Linked DNA regions of Homo sapiens: region 1 is linked to region 2. The links come from fine-mapping of genetic effects on gene expression. A gene starts in region 2. The other region holds a variant in brackets. All regions are shown on one strand. Distances are between the middles of the regions. Region 1 overlaps TUFT1 (tuftelin 1). Region 2 holds the start of TUFT1 (tuftelin 1).

Evidence for each region.
Region 1: its variant is fine-mapped to the expression of TUFT1 in iPS cells (HipSci, PIP 0.92).

The regions. Positions count from the first base shown.
Region 1 is chr1:151,556,745-151,565,779 of GRCh38, reverse strand. TUFT1 (tuftelin 1) reads right to left here. Exons shown (of 13, transcript NM_020127.3): 2 at 3,615-3,689; 3 at 3,094-3,195; 4 at 1,790-1,876; 5 at 1,166-1,255. It also overlaps the pseudogene RPS10P6. Among named protein-coding and RNA genes, the nearest start is that of MIR554, 15 kb to the right of the region's middle. The variant C/T (reference allele first, on the strand shown) is at 4,309.
Region 2 is chr1:151,534,804-151,545,057 of GRCh38, reverse strand. TUFT1 (tuftelin 1) reads right to left here and starts at 4,749. Exons shown (of 13, transcript NM_020127.3): 1 at 4,632-4,749. The coding sequence starts at 4,691. CGN (cingulin) reads right to left here. Exons shown (of 21, transcript NM_020770.3): 16 at 9,927-10,016; 17 at 9,375-9,458; 18 at 9,160-9,278; 19 at 8,713-8,821; 20 at 8,165-8,328; 21 at 6,366-7,853. The coding sequence ends at 7,712. RefSeq lists enhancers at 3,942-4,456, 4,457-4,972, 5,488-6,004.

The sequences.
Region 1 (9,035 bases), 21 kb before region 2:
ACATGCAGCTGCCTGCCACAAACAAAGAGCTTCCCTTGCCCCCAGGGATCCTGATAAAGTTTGACAAAGCAAAAATTACAAAGGGAAGATCTTTTTCAATTATTTCTGACCCAAAGCCTGATTATTCATCATATGACAGCCGGTTTGTGCAAACAAGGGGGCTGGACTTTGGGCCAGTCTCTGCACACATTAGGTTCTTCTGATACCTGACAAAGTAGCTCCCACCAGCCAGATGTGAGCTCAAGCACTGAAAGACCTACCTTCAGCCAAAGCAAAAATTAGGTAATTTCCACCACACAAGTGCATGCCCAAGACAAAGAACTTTCCTTGCACCAGCTGCTGGGCCACTGTTCCCCTCAAGGGAATGAAGGCAGGGGCTGCTGCTGGAGCAAGACTCTGCCTGAACCAAAATGCAAATCAAGGATACAACTCAGAATCTAAAGGATGAGGGCGAAGTCACAAAGAGACAGCTCTGCTCTCCTGAGGACATTTCTGTCCTCGAGTTTTGGAAAAACTGAAAAGCAGGATCCCAGGATTATCCCTCCCAGGAAAGACTTACCCAATCTGTTCAGTCTAACAAACATTTACTGATGCCTTCTACATCCCAGACCTGGGGGGAATGGGAGGGTGAGGATACAGACACGAGGTGGGGTGGGGTGGGGTGAACTCCTAACCTTGAGGAACTTCCCATCCCAGGTTAGACATAACTATATACAAGATTAATAACAGGCTAGGGCACGGACTTCAATTTACGCTACAGGTATCACCCAAACTAAGCAAGATCAGCTTATGAGAAGTGTGGATTTACAGGTGATTGTCTGCTTTACAAAATTCTATTATTATAAGAAGCTTGATCACAGAATCCTTATAGATAAGAGGTTTGCTAACAACTGATGATATTTAATTTATATAAGTTCAATTTCTGTACAGTGTTTCAGGAGCAGGTGTACTTATGTTTAAGCTGACATGTGTAAATGTAAGTGCTCATCGGCTGGAGAGTCCTAACCAGATTGTGAGTGCTCCAGAGAAGCCAGCATCACCTCTATTTTCTCCATTCCTGGCAGGGATGCTAGATTTAGCACACACTGGGTAATTGGTAAATGAGACTGCCTGGCACAACCCCACCTCCTCGGTGGGGACCCAACCATGGACCATTTCCTATTACCTGTATCTCCTGTCGATGGAGAGAATCTCCTAGGTTCCTGTCAAGCTTGCTACTTATATCCTCCCGGAGCTTCTGTAGGCAGTTCCTGGCCTGGGAGGGGAGGGGAAGAAACTTGAGCTTTAGGGTAGAGAAAGAGAGCATGCCAACTCACCCAACTCTGTGCCCCATCCCTGGCCTGTACTGCGAGTCAGGCACTGTCCTAACGACTGGCTGCAGGATGGAGGGAGGGACCTTGGTCAAGTGGAGCTACAGCTGACATTCTTGTTGGGGAGACACAAGACACAAAAGACAAATAAGTAAAATGTGTAATATGTTATATGGGCATAAGTGCCAACGAGAAACACGAGCCAGGAAGGGAGTTAAGAAATGCTGTGAAAAGTGGCTGGTAATTTTCGATAGGTGGCTGGGACAGTGCTGGGCCCATAGTACTTAAGTATTTGTGGATTAATGGATCAGGTATGGTCAAAAGTTATATATTTGACACACGGGAGGGCATGGTGGCATTTCAGAGACATAAAGGAAAAAGAAGGGGAAAAACCAGAATCCACAAAAGAAGACAGTCACAAAAAATGTGAGATTTAGAGAAATGACCTAGGCACTGCGTGAGAGGTAAGGGGTGCCCACCTCCTGGATGTACTGGACCTCACTCTTCAGCTGGTTAATATTCTTCTCGTGAATCATCTTGTCTCCAGACCTCCCCTTCAAGTACACCTGAAATAAGAACACCATTTAGTTAAGAAACCTCAAATTAAATTAACTATACAAAAATAGGCAGCTTCATATAGTGCTGGTGGGAGGGTAAATTGTTACCACCAATTTACTGGGTGGAATTTGGTGATTCGGATCAGAAGACCTAAAAATATATTTACTTTTTGGTCTATCAGTTCTACTTCTGGAAATTTACCCTAATGCAATAAATTTAGCTCAATGCTATATAGCTGTATTGGCATAAACACTCACATATATACAGTCATGCATCACTTAATCATAGGAATACATTCTGAGGGATGCATCATTAGGCAATTTCATCCTTGTACAAACATCACAGAGTGTACACACACAAACCTAGATGGCATGGCCTCCTACACCCCTAGGCTGTATGGTGTACCCTATTGCTCCTAGGCTACAAACAAACCTGCACAGCATGTTACTGTACTGAATACTGTAGGTGATCGTCACACAATGGTAATGTATCTAAACCCAGAAAAAATACAGTAAAAATGGAGTATAATAATCTTATGGGACCACTGTTGTCTACGCAGTCCATCACTGACCAAAACGTTGTTATGCAGTTTTGTTATGCACTGACCAAAACTGTAACTGAGTCAATCATGTGGTATGGGATTTATATCTAAAAAAGCTGTTTTATAAAAAAAAAGAGAGAGAGAAATAACAAAAATCATTTTATTTTTTAAAAAATAAGTTCCATCAGCCAGGTGGGCTGGTGCACGCCTATAATACCAGCATTTTGGGAGGCTGAGACAGGACGATTGCTCGAGCCCAGGATTTGGAGACCAGCCCAGGGAACAAGGCGAGACTGTCTCTACAAAACTAAAAATATATAAATAAATAAATAAGTTCCATCAGGATGAACCCATTATAGGAAAACATAAGTTCCATAAACACACCTCCTACCTGTCTCCACAACCTCTAGCAGCAAAACATGGTCAGTGGATAGGCCCCTAGTAAGGTCATCCAGTCCATCCCCTTGCCTGGGGCCAGGCTGCACCAAAGTTGCTAACAGGCAGACTGTAGTCTCCTGGTATTAATTAAGATATTTCTAGGAGATTGCCAGGAACTAGCAGCTCAGGTCTGGTTCCTTCCATCAAACCACAAGCTCCCTTTGGCAACAACATCAACTGCTCCTTCTCATATACGTGCAGGGAGGAAGAGGACAGGGAGAAAAGTTGGAGGTGAACTAAGCTTACCTTAATGATCTCCTCATGTCCATCATGGGACTCCACCAGTTCTGAAGCCAGAGAATGACCAGCTGAGTGGCTGGACACCATGGCATAGGTCTTCCTGCCCGCCTGGCCAAAGAGAGATGAGAGAGAGAGAGAGAGAGAGAGATGGCTCAGACACCACATGGCAAGCCCAGAACTCCTGCCCCTCAGCTAATGCAGAAGACCTGTTTCTCAAAAGACTTGAAGGATTAGTCTGACTTTCCTCTCCAAAAATTCGTTTCCGAACTTCTAACAGAAGCCACACAGCAGCAAGAACACCGGCCAGGGAGAATGGACAGAAGTAGCAGTTTAGTTTTAATTTTAGTGGGGGACTCCTCCTGCCCCAAAGCAGTGCAGAAGGCTGAGGCAAGCTGGATGTTGCTGAAAGGAGGGGCTCCCACGCTCGCATCACCAGAGTCGGCTCCAGGCAGTACTTGGGTAAGAGGCCAGCAGCAAGGAAGCACTGGTGTGGGGAGGGGGCCTTGCCCACCAGAATTCCGCAGTACCTTCTGGGCTATGTGTTCAAGTTCATCTCCTGTCAGTTCACCCTGGAGAGTCAGCCTGAGAATGTCCACGCTGCCCTAATAATGACAATGACAGCAACAATAACCCCTCAACTTTACAGTCTACAGGTACAAACTGCTACCAGTACAGGGGTGCTTCTGCCAGCTCTGTGGAGCGGGTCTTATCATCACCACTTCACAGACTAGGAAAACTGAAGTCCAGGGAGGCAGCATTACCTTGCCCAAGATCAGGTGTTTGGGGTGGTGACTCTGGGACCACCCAACAGTTTTTTCTTTCACAACAAAGATTACCTGGCACATGGCTCTGTAGAGCTCCAGCAGGGCTACCCTGGTTCTTGGACTACAGGGAACACATTGCATGCATTCTTCTTTCTCTAGTTGTAGAGAGGTCATTCCTGGACTGCTCATCCTCAATCCAGAATTTCTGCTCCTGACAACCAGCCAGCAAGTTATTGATGCACTTTACAAGACTAGCATATTCTTCCTGAACTAAACTATAGGAAAGTACCTGAATTCAAACTCCCATTTCTATGAGCCACATGGAAATTATCCAAGTGAAAACAGGCAAGATAATAGGTATTCATCTAGAGATCAACCTAATTTCAAAGAATGAAGCAGGTTTTCTTTCATAAGTCAAAGAAGTGTGTGTGTGTGTGTGTGTGTGTGTGTGTGTGCG[C/T]GCGCGCGCGCATGACTGCAGCCTCAACCTCCCAGGCTTAAGTGATCCACCCACCTCAGCCTCCCAAGTAGCTGGGACTACAGGCGCACCAATATGCCCATCTAATTTTTGTATTTTTTGTAGACATGAGGTTTTGCCATGTTGCCCGGGCTTCAAAGAAGATTTTTTTAAAAAGGCCGGGCACGGTGGCTCACGCCTGTAATCCCAGCACTTTGGGAGGCCAAGGCAGGTGGATCACGAGGTCAGGAGATCGAGACCATCCTGGCTAACACAGTGAAACCCCGTCTCTACTAAAAAATACAAAAACAAAATCAGCCTGGCGTGGTGGCAGGCGCCTGTAGTCCCAGCTACTCGGGAGGCTGAGGCAGCAGAATGGCGTGAACCCGGGAGGCGGAGCTTGTAGTGAGCCAAGATTGTGCCACTGCACTCCAGCCTGGGTGACAGAGCAAGACTCCGTCTCAAACACTCACACACACACACACACACACACACACACACACACACACACACACACAATACTTTGCAGGGAAAATTAAAAACCTGAAAGGAAAAACGTGGTAGGAGGGAAAAGTAAGGGCCTGTAGATTGGGAAGATGATAACGTTGAGAGAAGGCTAACAAGGCAGAGTAAATCACCTGCACTATGCATGGAAGTGAATGAGGGGCTTAGCCACTATGGATCTCTGGTTCCCACTGGAAAAATAAGGAAGTTGGACCAAGTATATCTCAGGCTCCTTCTGGATTCCATTCTGTGACAGCGTGAGGATGGAGTATATGCCTCTCCCAGACAATGAAGAGAAATAGGTGCTGGGCTATCCAAGAATGAAAGTGATCTTGAGGTCATCTGGTCATCCCCTGCCTTGAGGCCCAGCTGCATAAATGACATCTTACTGGTAACAGGTTTTAAGGAACCCTCTTAACCTTCCAAATGTCTAGAGAAGATAACGTTCCAACTTGGTGGAGAAGAAATCAGTCTTTGGTGAGATACTTAACTCTTGATGTTTTTATCTGTAAAAGGGGTATATTACCATCCAACTGAGGGTTTTTTGTTTGTTTGAGATGGAGTCTTGCTCTTGTCTCCCAGGCTGGAGTGCAGTGACACGATCTTGGCTCACTGCAGCCTCCGTCTCCTGGGCTCAAGCAATTCTCCTGCCTCAGCCTCCCAAGTAGCTGGGATTACAGGCATCTGCCACCACACCTGGCTAATTTTTGTATTTTTAGTAGAGACGGGGTTTCGCCACATTGGCCAGGCTGGTCTCGAACTCCTGACTTTGTGATCCTCCCGCCTCAGCCTCCCAAAGCGCTGGGATTACAGGCGTGAGCCACCGCACCCGGCCCCCAACTGAGGGTTTTTTTGTTGAATATTACTTAAAAATATTGCCGGTGTGCTGGCTCATGCCTGTAATCCCAGCACTTTGGGAGGCCGAGGTGGGAGGATCACCTGAGGTCAGGAGTTCGAGACCAGCCTGGCCAACATGGTGAAACCCCATCTCTACCAAAAATACAAAAAAATTAGCCAGGCGTGGTGGTGGGCGCCTGTAATCCCAGCTGCTCAGGAGACTGAGGCAGGAGAATCGCTTGAACCAGGGAGGCGGAGGTTAAAGTGAGCTGAGATCGCGCCACTGCACTCCAGCCTGGACGACAGAGTGAGATGCTGTCTCAAAAAGAAAAAGAAAATGAGAAAATGTATGGAGGTTACTCTCTGCCACACAGGAGGGTGGCACTGAAACATCAGCATCCTCCCACTTTTTGGATTGGGAAGACAGAAGACACTGTCACAATGGCCCTTAAACCTTCCCAACCCTAGCAAAGTAGCTGGTTTTATGAAAACACTTAATTCCTATGAAATAAAAGCCACATCCTTAGAGTGGCATGCAAGGCTTTCCACAGTCTGGGTAAACTCACACCTCTTGCTACCATCTCTCAGTGCCCTATCCAATACATTCCATGGTTTCCAACTTCAGTGCCTTTGCTCCCATCATTTCCTGTGCCTTAAATATCTATTCTTCCCATTTTCACCTAAGGCGTCTCCAAGTTCCTCAAGTTCATGTTCAAATGCCTCATCTTCCAAGATGCTACCCCGCATCCTGTGGGAAACACATCTTCCCCTCCTTGAGCTCCCACAGCGTCACAAGGCCTCCCATGGCATCTGCCTCTCAGTTATTTGTGTTTTGTGAAGAATTACCCCTTCTGTTAACTCCTCAAGAGCTGTTGTATGCCACAGCCCTTAGCAAAGGTATTTTCTGAATGCACAGAGAATGCTCCATGACATCTAGGTCAAGAAAATATTACAAAAGAAAAAAGAGGAAATGATTTCAAAATAGCCAGAATGGCTGCCAAATTCTTCCTTCCCAGGACATACCTGCACTTTTATTAAAACAGTATCTCGACCAGGGGCAGTGGCTCATGCCTGTAAACCCAGCACTTTAGGAGGCCAAGGTGGGTGGATCACCTGAGGTCAGGAGTTTGAGACCAGCCTGGCCAACATGGTGAAACCCCGTCTCTACTGAAAATATAAAACTCAGCTGGCTGTGGTGGCAGGCACCTGTAATCCCAGCTACTAGGGAGGCTGAGGCAGGAGAATCGCTTGAACCTAGGAGGTGGAGGTTCCAGGGAGCCAAGATCATACCACTGCACTCCCGCCTGGGCAACAGAGCAAGACTCCGTCTCAAAAAGAAAAAAAAAAAAAAAGGACACTATCTCCCCATAGTGTTCTATGGAGGCAGGCTGGGAAAAGGCAGGGCATCCTTCAGTCAGAACAAAGGGGTTATTAGCTAATGAAGGTCAAGTCTGGTCTGTTTCATAAACCTACGCATTCCAATTGGAAGAGCATAGACAACTAGGCTGGGTTGGGGCACTGAGAGATGATTCCATCCAGCCATCAGAATTCCAGGTAGAGAGGAGAAAGAGGGTCAGTTGAAAATGTTCTCAAAGAAATAATGACCAAAAATTTTCAAAATTTGGCAAAAGACACAAATCTATAGATTCAAGAAGCCAAGCAAACTTCAAACAGAATAAACATGAAATTCATGCCATGATAGATCATAATTAAATTTCTGATAACTAAAGACAAAGAAAAAGTCTTGAAAGCAGAGAAAATAACCTTTGAGGGGATCCCTCAAAGGTTATTTTCTCTTCGGAAATGACAGAGAGTAGAAGGAAGTGGCATACTATTTTTCAAATGCTGAAAGAGAAGAACGGTCAATTCAGAATTGACAAAGGAAAATATCCTGTAACAAAGGAAAATATCCTTCAGAAATGAGGGGGAAATCAAGACATTCTCAGATGAAGGAAAACTAAGAGAATTTCTCACCAGCAGACCTACACTAAAAGAATGGCTTAAAAAGTTCTCTAAACAGAAAGGAAATTATTTTTTAAAAAAAGGAAACTTGAAATAATGGGAAGAAAGAAACATGAGTTGAAAAAAGATGGGTAAATACAACAAGATTTCCTTCCCCTCTTAGGTTTTCTTTTTTTTTTTTTAAGTTTTTTTGCTGTAAGTTTATTCAATGCAAAATAATCCTCTCCAATTTTACTGAGGTGGCTGACCACATCCTCAACCAAATCCACCTCTAAACTGGAATTCGGTTGCTGACCCAGCCCCAGCCTCAGCTTTGCTGTCGGCACCAGGCGGCACAGCACTCCGTCTGTAGGTTATCTCTGTCCGCTTTCCCTCTTGTGAGTCTTGCAGGTCGCTCACCCTTCAGACCTTTAGGCTGAGGACTTCCAGTCTCTGGACGGCTGCAGCATAGAGTGGCAGGCACAATCTCCGGGGCAGATGAAGGTAATCACGGAGATACTGGATGCCCTCATTGGTAACGTACCAGTGGAAATGTCTCCAGGCAAACTGTTCCTTCACGTAGCCTCGGGACTTGAGAGGCTGCATGGCCTTCATGACATGAAGATTGGGCACATCCTTGTCTGCCAGCTCCCGGTGCTTAGGCATGTGGACATCCTTCTTGGCCACCATGACTCCCTCCTTAAAAAGGAGTTCATAAATGGCAATCCGGTTCTTAGGCATCAACATCTCGGTGGCTGTAGGGGCCGGGGCTGGGGCTGGAAAGCCCCTCTTAGGTTTTCTAAGTTACATTTGATGATTAAAGCAAAAAGTATAACAATGTCTGATGTGGTTCTAAATGTATGCAGAGAAAATATTTAAATATGATAATATTATACTATTAAATATTTAGTATCATAAATGGGAGAAGGTAAAGGGATGTAAAGGAAGGAAAGGTTTCTCTTCTTCACTCAAACTAGTAAAATGCCAACACCAGGAGACTGTGATAACCTATGTATACATAATGTATAATACCTAGAGTAACCACTAAAAAGTCTATACAAAGAGATAACACTCAAAAACATTATAAATGAATAAAAATGGAATCCTAAAAAGTGTTCAGTTAATCCACAGGAAGGCAGGAAAAAGAAAACAGATAAATGAAAAACAGAACCGGGCATCATAGCTCACATCTGTAATCTCAGCATTTTGTTTGGTTTTTGAGACTAATTCTGTTTCTGTCACCCAGGCTGGAGTACAGTGACGCAATCTCGGCTCACTGCAACCTCTGCCTCCCAGGTTCAAGCAATTCTCCTACCTCAGCCTCCCACGTAACTGAACTGGGATTACAAGCTCCCGTGACAATGCCTGGCTAATTTTTATATGTTAATATAGAGGGGGCTTCACCATGTTGGCCAGGCTGGTCTCGAACTCCTGACCTCAAGTGATCC
Region 2 (10,254 bases):
ATTACAGACGTGAGCCACTGCACTCAGCCCAGAGCCATGCTCTTGACCACAATGCTATTAACAGAAACTAGTTTATTACATTACCAAAAATTGTAATACAATTACACTGGGAGGATGGGAAGGAAGCATGTCAGGGGTGGGAGTATAGATTTTCCTATAATTCCTACAACAGAAGTCAATAGATGTCTAAAACTGATAAATCAATTAAAATCACTGTAAGCATATTATTTAGAAACATGGAGGTAAACACAAAACAGCTCAAAGAGTAGAAAGTGGTTACTTCCATGGAGCAGAACTTGGAGCAGGGGACTGCTATTTTCTTTTAAAAGCCTTTTGATATTATTGATACTTTGATACTTTAAAATCATGCACATATGTGATTTTAAATGTCCGAGATCACGTCGTTGCACTCCAGCCTGGGCAACAAGAGTGAAACTCCTTTGATAAAAAGTGATTTAAGAGGCCAGGCACGGTGGCTCACGCCTGTAATCCCAGTACTTTGGAAGGCCGAAGCGGGCAGATCATTTGAGGTCAGGAGTTTGAGACCAGCCTGGCCAACATGATGAAACCCCATCTCTAGTAAAAGTACAAAAATTAGCTGGGCATGGTGGCCCATGCCTGTAATCCCAGCTACTCGGGAGGCTGAGGCAGGAGAATTGCTTGAACCAGGGAGATGGAGGTTGCAGTGAGCCAAGATTGTGCCACCGCACCCCAGCCTGGGTGACAGAGTGAGACTCCATCCTCCCCCTCCCACCGCCCAAAAAAAAGGTGATTTAAGGCCAGGTGCAGTGGTGCACACCTGTAATCCCAGCACTTTGAGAGGCCGAGGCAGGAAGATTACTTTAAACCAGGAGTTCAAGACTAGCCTGGGCAACATAGTGAGAACCCATATCTACGAAAAATGAAAAATTAGCTAAACATGTTGAGTATGCCTGTGGTCCCAGCTACTTGGGAGGCTGAGGTGAAAGGATCCCTTGAGTCCAGGAGTTCAAGGCTGCAGTGAGCTATGATCACACCACTGCACTCCAGCCTGGGCAACAGAGTGAGACCCTGTCTCAAAAAAAAAAAAAAAAGTGATTTAAAGAAGGATGGAAAGAAGGAAGAGAGGGAAGGAGGGAAATGAAATCAGAGATCATCCATGGTAAAGTCTAATGTCATAGACATCTGTTCTTTTGCCACGCAGCTTCCATTCCCCTCCACTGATAACAACACTTGGGTCTTTGGAGAATCTCCTTCCATCACTGTAATCTGGGGGGGGCCTATCAGTCAAGGAACCCTGTCCTGCTCTGGACAACTGGGGGCCAAGGGACAATGGTACTCTCTCCCTGGAATCTTGAGCATAATGGTGCAGAGACCTAAAACAGCTGGAACCAATTCACCAATAGTAGTAAGCCTCCATCGTTCCACTTACCCAGGCCCCAGAACATCCTTGGTTAGGGCTTTCTAAGCTTTCCCTTAAATTCTGTGAACTGCTCTATTTCCTTCTAATAATTTCCTCATCTGCTTAGTTTAGCTGGAGTCATTCTCTGTTGTTTATAACCAAAGGAAGTTAATGGAAATATCTAGTAAAAAGGAGTTTGGTGTTTATTTGTTCTTTTATTTGCCAATATAACTTACCACAGTGGCTTGCAAAACTTTTCAATCTCAAAAACATATTTCACATCAAGACCCAGTAAACAAACACGTACATATATAATACACACACACACACACACACACACACACACACATATATATATAACTGAAATAAAAGTTCTACCAAAAATGTCTATCCTCACTAACACTCTAAGAGTGTTAATTCTATTTCTTTTTTAATACTGGTCTGACCTACTAAGTTGATCTCAGACCCACTACTGGTTATGGTCTGCAGTTCTGAAAAACACTGGCTCCTTGTACCTGCTGCATCTGCCTCCAACAATAAAAACATCCCAGAGAGTGTATTGGCCCTATGTCCATGTCCACATGTGATACGCTAAGGCACACTGCCTGGCTAGTGGGGAAACACCAACAGAGTCCCAGGGCCCTCACTCCCAGTAGGATCTCTAATCAGTTCAACTGTCTACATTCTGACTCCGGAAGAAACATCTGTTCATTTATTTATTGACTCACTTTGCACATGAATTGAGCACCCATTCAGTGGTGTGAATATATGACAGATTCCTGGGGGTTGTCCAGAGCCATAAATTCTGTCTGCAAGTTGGCTCAGAGAAGAGGAATCCAGGACAAGGCCTGTGTCCCGACTGTTCACCATCTCCTCCCCTCCCTTAAGGGCCCAGGAATGTCTCCAAGATCAGATCTGGGCAATGATTACTTCATTCCCAGCTCTGGAGTAAAATAAGTCTCAAGTTCAGCCTAGAAAAAAGGAATAAAAGGGAATTTCTGTCTCTCCCTTGCTCTAGAGGTCTCTGGTTAGCTTCAAACTAACCTATGATGGAGACCATCTGAATTCCTTGTCCATTATTTTCTCTTAGTAATTTTTTCTGCCCCACCAGACAAAGAGCAAAAACATCAAGAAAGAGTAAAAGGGGCCAGATGTAGTGGCTCATGCCTGTAATCCCAAGCCTTTGGGAGGCCAAGGTGGGCAGACTGCTTGAGCCCAGGAGTTCGAGACTAGCCTGGGCAACATGGTGAAATCCCATCTCTACCAACAGAAAAAAAAAAAAAAAATTTTAGTCAGGTGTGGTGGCATGTGCCTACAGTCTCAGCTACTTGGGGAGACTGAGGTAGGAGGATCTACTGAAACCAGGAGGTGGAGGTTGCAGTGAGCTGAGATCATGCCATTGCACTCCAGCCTGGGCAACAGAGCAAGGCCCTGTCTCAAAAAAAGAGAAAAGAAAAGAGAAAAGAAAAGAAAGGAAGAAAGAAAAAAAATAGTAGAGGTTAATGATTCATTAACACTGCCAGTGCCAACTTGGTCTTAGACTTCTTTCCGGATCTCTTTTCTATATAGCAAGCAAGCAAAAAGCAGCCCAAACATCCCTCTCCTTTATTTATCTCATACCCTTTTCCCTCAACTATTCCAAAAGAGAGAGCAAGAGCATGGAAGAGAAGCTATAGGTGGTGTGCATCTGAAGTCCCAGCTACTCAGGAGGCTGAGGCAGAAGGATTGAGGCCAGGAGTTCAAGGCTGTGGTGTGCTATGATTGCACCCGTGAAGAGCCACTGTACTGCAGCTCCGGCAACATAGCAAGACACTCGTCGCTTAAAAACAAAGAGCAGGGAGTAGGACTTGTGGCTGACACATAATGGATAGATTTCTTCCATCTCTTCAGAGTCTCATAGCTGGGGATGTGGCAGGCTACAGAAGAATGGGGTTTGGGCAACTGGGGTTGGCCAATAGCAACATCTGTATTTTAATGTGGCAAAAACACTCATAGCCCAGGCAGAAATGGAGAGGGGACTGGGAAAAGAACTAAATGACCATCTGTATTCTAAACCTGAAATGAGTTTGAAGAAGAGCCATAATCTAGCTGCAGTTGGGTTAGCTCTACCTCAAGAGCAGGATGAGGCAGGCAGAGAGTAAGGGAGTCAGATGTGGGAGGGGGGATGATACACAAGTTCCCCATCACCTTAGTTTTCATTTCACTCCCACCCACAATAGCTTGGAAATTGATGAAATAGTACACACCTAATCTGGGTTAAGTTCCCCAAAAGAGCCTAGAAACACTCAGCCACAAATTACCCTCCTCAGCCTCTGGAGAGGAAAAACCATATGGTCAGCTAGGGTGGGGAGAACTGGGACTGGGAGCCAGAGAAAGAGGAGAGAGGGGTAGACCAGCCTGCACTGGAGAACGCCCCCTTTCTCCGCAACCCTCTCCCCGTCCAGAAGCCTTCGCTTGGGTCACTTCCCTCCCCTTCTCGGCCCGGGTTCTGCATCCCCTTCCTCCACTATCCCAGGGCCTGGCGGCTGGAGACGGAAGCAAAACTAACACACCGTCCCAGGAAGCTATCGGCAGGCAGATAGAGGGAGGAAAACAAGAGAACTACAAGGGGGAAGAAGGAGAAATCCAAGACAAGAGGTGACCCCCGGGCGGAAAGCCCTATCCCTTAGCGAAAGGTAGAGTCCCTAGCCAATCTCGGAATAGTTTGAGTCCTACCGTCCCCTACTTGCCCCCCGCCCTCCAGTCCAAGCCCTGTAATTTACTCTACCATTTTTCTTGTTACTGATCATCCAAAGCACCATGATGAAATTCTTTGGAGGGCCTCGGAGGTCACCAGGACCCTCGACCCACGGGAAAGCCTAAGCCTCCTCGGCAGGACACAACGTCCAAAGGCGCTCAGGGACCCAGTCGCTTGAGCTCATTCTCTTATGACCCAATGTGGCTGCCCAAAAGACGCCTGAGACCCGCGGCCCAAGCACGGGCTCGCCGGCGCCGAGTCCCAGGCAGGAGCCGCAGTGTCCTACCAAAGGGCAGGGACGCCCCGAACCCTCCAGCCTCAAAGGAGTCTTCACCCCGCGACTCCCACTGCCCGTCGCAGGCAAAAGAATAAAAAGAGAGAAGCGCCGCGCAGGGCTGACCGCGCGAGCCGGGCACCAGGTGATGTCAGCCAACACGGCGCGGGGCACGGAAGGGGCGGACTTAGAAACCGGGAATACAAAACGGAGAAGACAGCGAGAGCGCTTTTTCTTACCGCCGCCTGGTCCTCTGGGTGCACGTCCACCAGGGTACACCAGTTCCGCGTCCCGTTCATCTTCCCTCGGGGTCGCAGCACACACGCCACTTGTCCACCCCGCTGTCTGGCTCCAACTGGGCGGGCGCGCGCGGAACCGCCCCCTTGTATAGGCCCATCAGGGGCGGGGCTGAAGATAGGCCGCGCCCCCAGTTCGCGGTTTCGCAGAGAACTAACGATAGGCGAGGAGGTGAGGTGGGCGGAGCCAATGGGTCTGGGACATGCCCCATCGGTGCTCGCATAGATTTACACAAAGGTGGGGCTTGGGAGCGACATGGGGCTGCTTTAACTGAACAGCTTTATCTGGAGTATGTGGTTGCACATTCTTCATTAATCTTGTCGCTTTCCATCTTTCCAAGATCAGTGTTGGTCAGAGGGAATCACCCTGCCTGCTCCTAGTGGATGAGGAGTTGGAACCTGCAAAAGCTTCCTTCCATACATGCTCCTCTCCCTATACGTAAGCCACCTGTAGGCTTTGTGGAGCTGAGTAAACCTTTCCTCCACCGCAGAAAGGCAGGCACCAAGGTCCAGCTCACTCAGACTGGCCTAAGCCAGTCTGGCAGGTGCACTTCCTTGGCAAGAGGCCCAGGAGGCCCAGTCAGCTTAGGCTCTGGGTGGGGCTTGTTTTGCAGAAGCTCTTTTACTGACGCTGCCCTTATATAGTTGGGAGAGGCGGGACACATTGCCTTAAAAGGAATTTGTGTTCGTGAGAAAGGATGAGCCTTGACTTTTCCAGTTGCATTTTCTCCCCAAGCCTAGGCTGGGATCTTGAGGGCCTAGAAGAGAGGGTTGGCCAAGCAGGACCCTGGAGCTTCGTCCCCGCCCAGCTGCTCTTGGCAGATGGCTTCTTCACTTGGCTGTGGTCCACAGAGACAGCAGACAGAATACTTTAGGAGGAGGTCTGACCCACTCCTGAAGGGATAGTACTCCTATACCTGGCAATAGGCTCTAGTGAAGGGCCAGCTCCCTCTTCAAGGCAACACTAGGGCAGGAACAGCAGAAATGTCCCTACCTCCCAGTTAGGGACTGGGTCCTATGTCAGTTAGGAATGAATGAGGATTTTTCTACCTGGGAAGTGAATGCTGGGGTTATCACTATGACCCAAGGGAATAAAACCCAGTTCTGGTCTGTTCTACTCTAACCCTCAAAAAGGCATTTACTGCTGGCCAGGCGCAGTGGCTTATGCCTGTAATCCCACCACTTTGGGAGGCCGAGGTGGGCGGATCACAAGGTCAGGAGTTTGAGACCAGCCTGACCAACACAGTGAAACGCCATCTCTACTAAAAATACAAAAATTAGCTGGGTGTGGAGGCACGCGCCTGTAATCCCAGCTACTCAGGAGGCTGAGGCAGGAGAATCGCTTGAACCCGGGAGGCAGAGGTTGCAGTGAGCTGAGATCATGCCATTACACTCCAGCCTGGGTGACAGAGTGAGACTCCGTCTCAAAAAAAAAAAAAAAAAAAAGGCATTTACTGTCCTTGTTCTTCCCAGAAGGTTGTTCAGGAGAGAAGAGAATGGGGCTGCTATAAACATCTCCAGGTTTCGTAGGTCCCATCTGCTCTGTTCTAAAGGGCCTCTGAAAAGTCAGGTGAAGAAAACTCCAGCTTCGGCTCCTAAGCTGTACAGTTAATATGACTTCATAAAATCTGGACCTCCAAATATGCCAAGAAAAAGAATGAGAAGACAAACCAAGGATTTCAATATAAATGTGTAATTTTAATATTTAATTTAAAATAAAACCAAGGCTGGATTGGATTGGGAAAGAACGTTTGATTTGCAGAAGAATATAGGAATTTTTTTAATCACGACATTACAAGTCATTTGTGAAAACAGCCTTCCTCCTGCCACCGGCTCCCTATACAACCTGCTTAGGAAATATGGAGGTGAATCATCCCCCTTACCTCTTCCCTACCAGGGCTTGGTTCTCCCCAAAATCCAAAGGAGAAATAAATGTCTTCCGTTGCCTCTTCCCATTTTTACAGTCAGCTTCTAACCCCTTGCAAAGCCCTGAATCAGAGCCAAGCACCTCAGAAAATGAGGGTCCCTTGGTTCTCTTATTGAAGTTGGGCACATGTGGTCAGAGAAGCCCCAAGGAAGGCCACAGGGACTGACACCTTTACTTTTGGAATTTGTGCAGCCAGTTGTCAGGGCTCCCAGGTGCAACCACCTTATAACCATATCCACAGTCACAGAGGAGGGAGAGGAGGAAGGATGAAAACCCTGAGCAGGACCAGACCCCCGCCACTTTATCATGACCCTACCAAAGTCCCTCTCCCAGGGGTCATTGGCAGAGAAACCCCAACAGCTCTCTCAATCAATCACTGGGGCAGCAGGGAAGGCTGAGGGCCCTGGCTGGGGAAAAGCTGGTCTTTGGAGAGGTATGAATGTGCAGATATAAAAAGCAAGAAGAGCATCCTTATCTCCTTGCCTTGGCTAAGGCACTGACAGGAAAAATGCAAGGTAGGAATGGCAAAGAGGGGAAAGGAAGAAGACAAAAATATAGGAACTGGAGGGGTATGGGGACTACCACATGGGCCCCATACTTGTGCAAAGAAATGGGTAGAGCCATGCCTGCATGTCTGTTACCCATAACATTCCCCTCACCCTGCTCCAGAGTGGAAGGAAAATGAGTTGCAGGAATCCAGGGAGCACAATAACATAGGGTATTTCCCTGAGCCTTAGGGTTAAGGGCTAAAGAATAAAGCTTTATACACATGGCAATTTCTATCCCTTCCTATCCTTCTCAGTCCCCATCAGCCTAATGCTGACCATCCTTCCACTATAAGAGAGATGAGGGAGGTGTCGGCACTTGAGGAAAAGGCTCAGTTGGCTTGAAATGTCCACTCCTACAGTGGAAAGTCCATCTATCAGCTTATTGCTGATGATTTTTTTTTTTTATCACCATCACTCTGACCCCTCCCTGTCTTAGGTCTGAATAATTGGGTCACCCATAGGAATGCAGAACCCAGGGTGGGCAGAGCAGAGCAGCACTTGCTGGGATAGGCCTCGAGCCTGGTTTCTGAGTCCTTGAGGACCACGAGCTAACAGGAGCTGGTCTGTAGGTTGCTCTCCGTAAGCAGTGATGCAATGGACGAGGGATCGTAGACACTGTCGAATTCCTCATCTGAGCTCAGCCCTTCGTTTTTGAGAGCTGACTCAGCAGCTGAGCGGGAAGCTTTGCGCCTGACTCAGAGAGAAGAATAATGGTTGGGGAGGGGAAAATAGAAATATTAAGACAGCCACCCTTTTTGTACAAAGGAAACCCCAATTCTTCTAAGGCCTAAAGTTTATTCACAAAATCCCCAACTAATCAGATTTGGGGAGGTACAGGATGGTGGCTGAGATACTAATAAATAAATATACTGGCTTCCAACCAGAAACAAGTGACTACACAGTACCATGTTAGAGATTCTCCTCCTTATCCAGCACAGGAGAGACCATTCCCTCCCTGCTCTAGTGTCCCTATGGAGCAAGGGCAAAAGGGTAGCCCATACCAGGAGTCCTTCTCCAGAGACTTGATCCGGGCCTGGAGCTGTTCATTGACCTCATGCTGCTCCTCCACCTCACGCTGGGCCTTCTTCCTCAGGCCGTCCAGTCGCTCAATTTCCTCTTCTGCTTCATCCACCTGACGCTTCAAAGCCTTCACCCTCAGGCTTAGCTGGGCAGGATACCAAGTCCACACATCTGAATAGCATCTACTACCATGGCCTGGGACCCTCCCCCATAACAATCTTGACAAGGTATAATTGCCGCTGGAAAAATGTGGCCTTGGGCAAGTTCCTTAACCTCACATGGTTGTCTTAGGGATTAAATGTATTAACACATGTGTAATACTTACAGAACCTAGCACATCATAAGCACTCAATATATACGCTTACCATGACTTCTCTAGTCTAGTCTTTTCAATCTAATCTCTGTCCTTATACAAGGAAAGTCTAAGTTTGGAGGACCTATAGGAGATAAGGGCCTCCCTTGGCTTTCAGGAAAACATATAATATATACCTGCCCCAGGTTGCTTGGCTCCAGGGTGCCATGTCCTCACCTGGTCTTTCTGGTCATTGACATGCTGCCGCTCGTCTTCAATCTGGATGGATAGTTCTTTAACTTTCCGCTCCAGTTTTCGATTGGTAGACTGCAGAACTGTCTTCTCCCTAAGGTGAGGTAGAAGAATGTCTATGAGTGTCCCCATTTCTAAGGGAATCCTAACTTGGCCCCCTACTGTCCCCAAGGACTCCTCTCAGCCATGAGCTCCACCATTAGACTGGGCAGGATCCAGGGCAGATTCAAAGAATGAGGGAGAGTGACGTCATTCACATTTCAGAATTTCTGCAACACTCTTTGCTCTCTATCAGGAGAAAGTGTTCCCTAAAGATCAGGCCAGGCTGGCCATATCTGAGGTGGAAGATGGAGGGAGCCACAGAGGAGAAAAGCCAAGAGGGAGGGAGGAAGAAAAGGAGGGAGGAAGGGAGGAAGGATAGGCTTATGTCACCTCTCTTCAGCCTGTAGCCGCTCCTGCAACAACTGATTCTGGGACTCAAGCTGAGAGAGGCTGGCACTAGGCTTCTGGAAGCCTTCTGAGCTGGCCAACCGGGTCTTCAGGTCCTTGTTCTGAGAGGGACAGGAAGCCTCCACAGTTAGCACTCCACTGGCCATTTTACTCACCTCCTGGGGTCCATCCCTAAGAATCCTCCCCTCCCCCATCACCTGTCTCTCCAAGGAGATTTTGTCACACTCCAGGTCCTGCCGAGCAGACCTTTCCTGCATGAGCTCTGTCCTCAGCTGATCCACCTAGTGGGGATGGGTGAGAGGACCAGACTTGGGGAGGGCTAAGGATGAACCAGCAAGCTGAACAAAGTGAGGCTGAGTCATGGGAGGATGGTCTCTGAACCCTGAATCCAAAAATTCCCAGGCAACTAAAAAATCACAGCCTATTCAAATGGGAGGGGCCAGAGAATGCAAACAGAGCCTCCTTCGTCCCTCCAGGAACTAGTATCCCTTGTAAACCAAAGAAGCCCCAATTCAGGTCAGAGAACAGCCCAGGCCACCAGGATCCCTTCCTCCATGCAAATCATTGGCTTCTTTCCACCCAAGGAAACTGGCCAACCTTTCCCAAAGCAGACAAAACCCTGAAGGAGACCCAGCCACGCACAGATTCGGCAGCCAGATGATGAAAGATGGGAGGGTAGAGTTGTTTTTGAGAGAACCAAGAGGTGATGCAGTCAGGGGTAAACAGAGATGAGGGGTGGGGGCGGTTACCTGGTCCCGGCCACGATTCACCCGATCTGTTAGCAGCTCCACGGTGTTCTTCTCCTCATCTAACTCTGTTTCCAGCCGTGAGACTTTTTCCTAGGACAGAAGAACAAGTAATTCTGTCCCAAATGCTGGACACCAGAATGCCAAACTCAGACCAGGAGCCTCTCAAACTCCAGCATTAACAGACTTTTCTCTCTTGCACATCCCAGTAACCTTTTGGTACTTGCCTGGACCCAGAGCCACTATGGAGCCAGCGCCCTCTACTGACCAGATGTGGCATCATGGGCAGGTCGGGGCCATGCTCTGGTGACGGCCCTTTGACAGAAAGGCA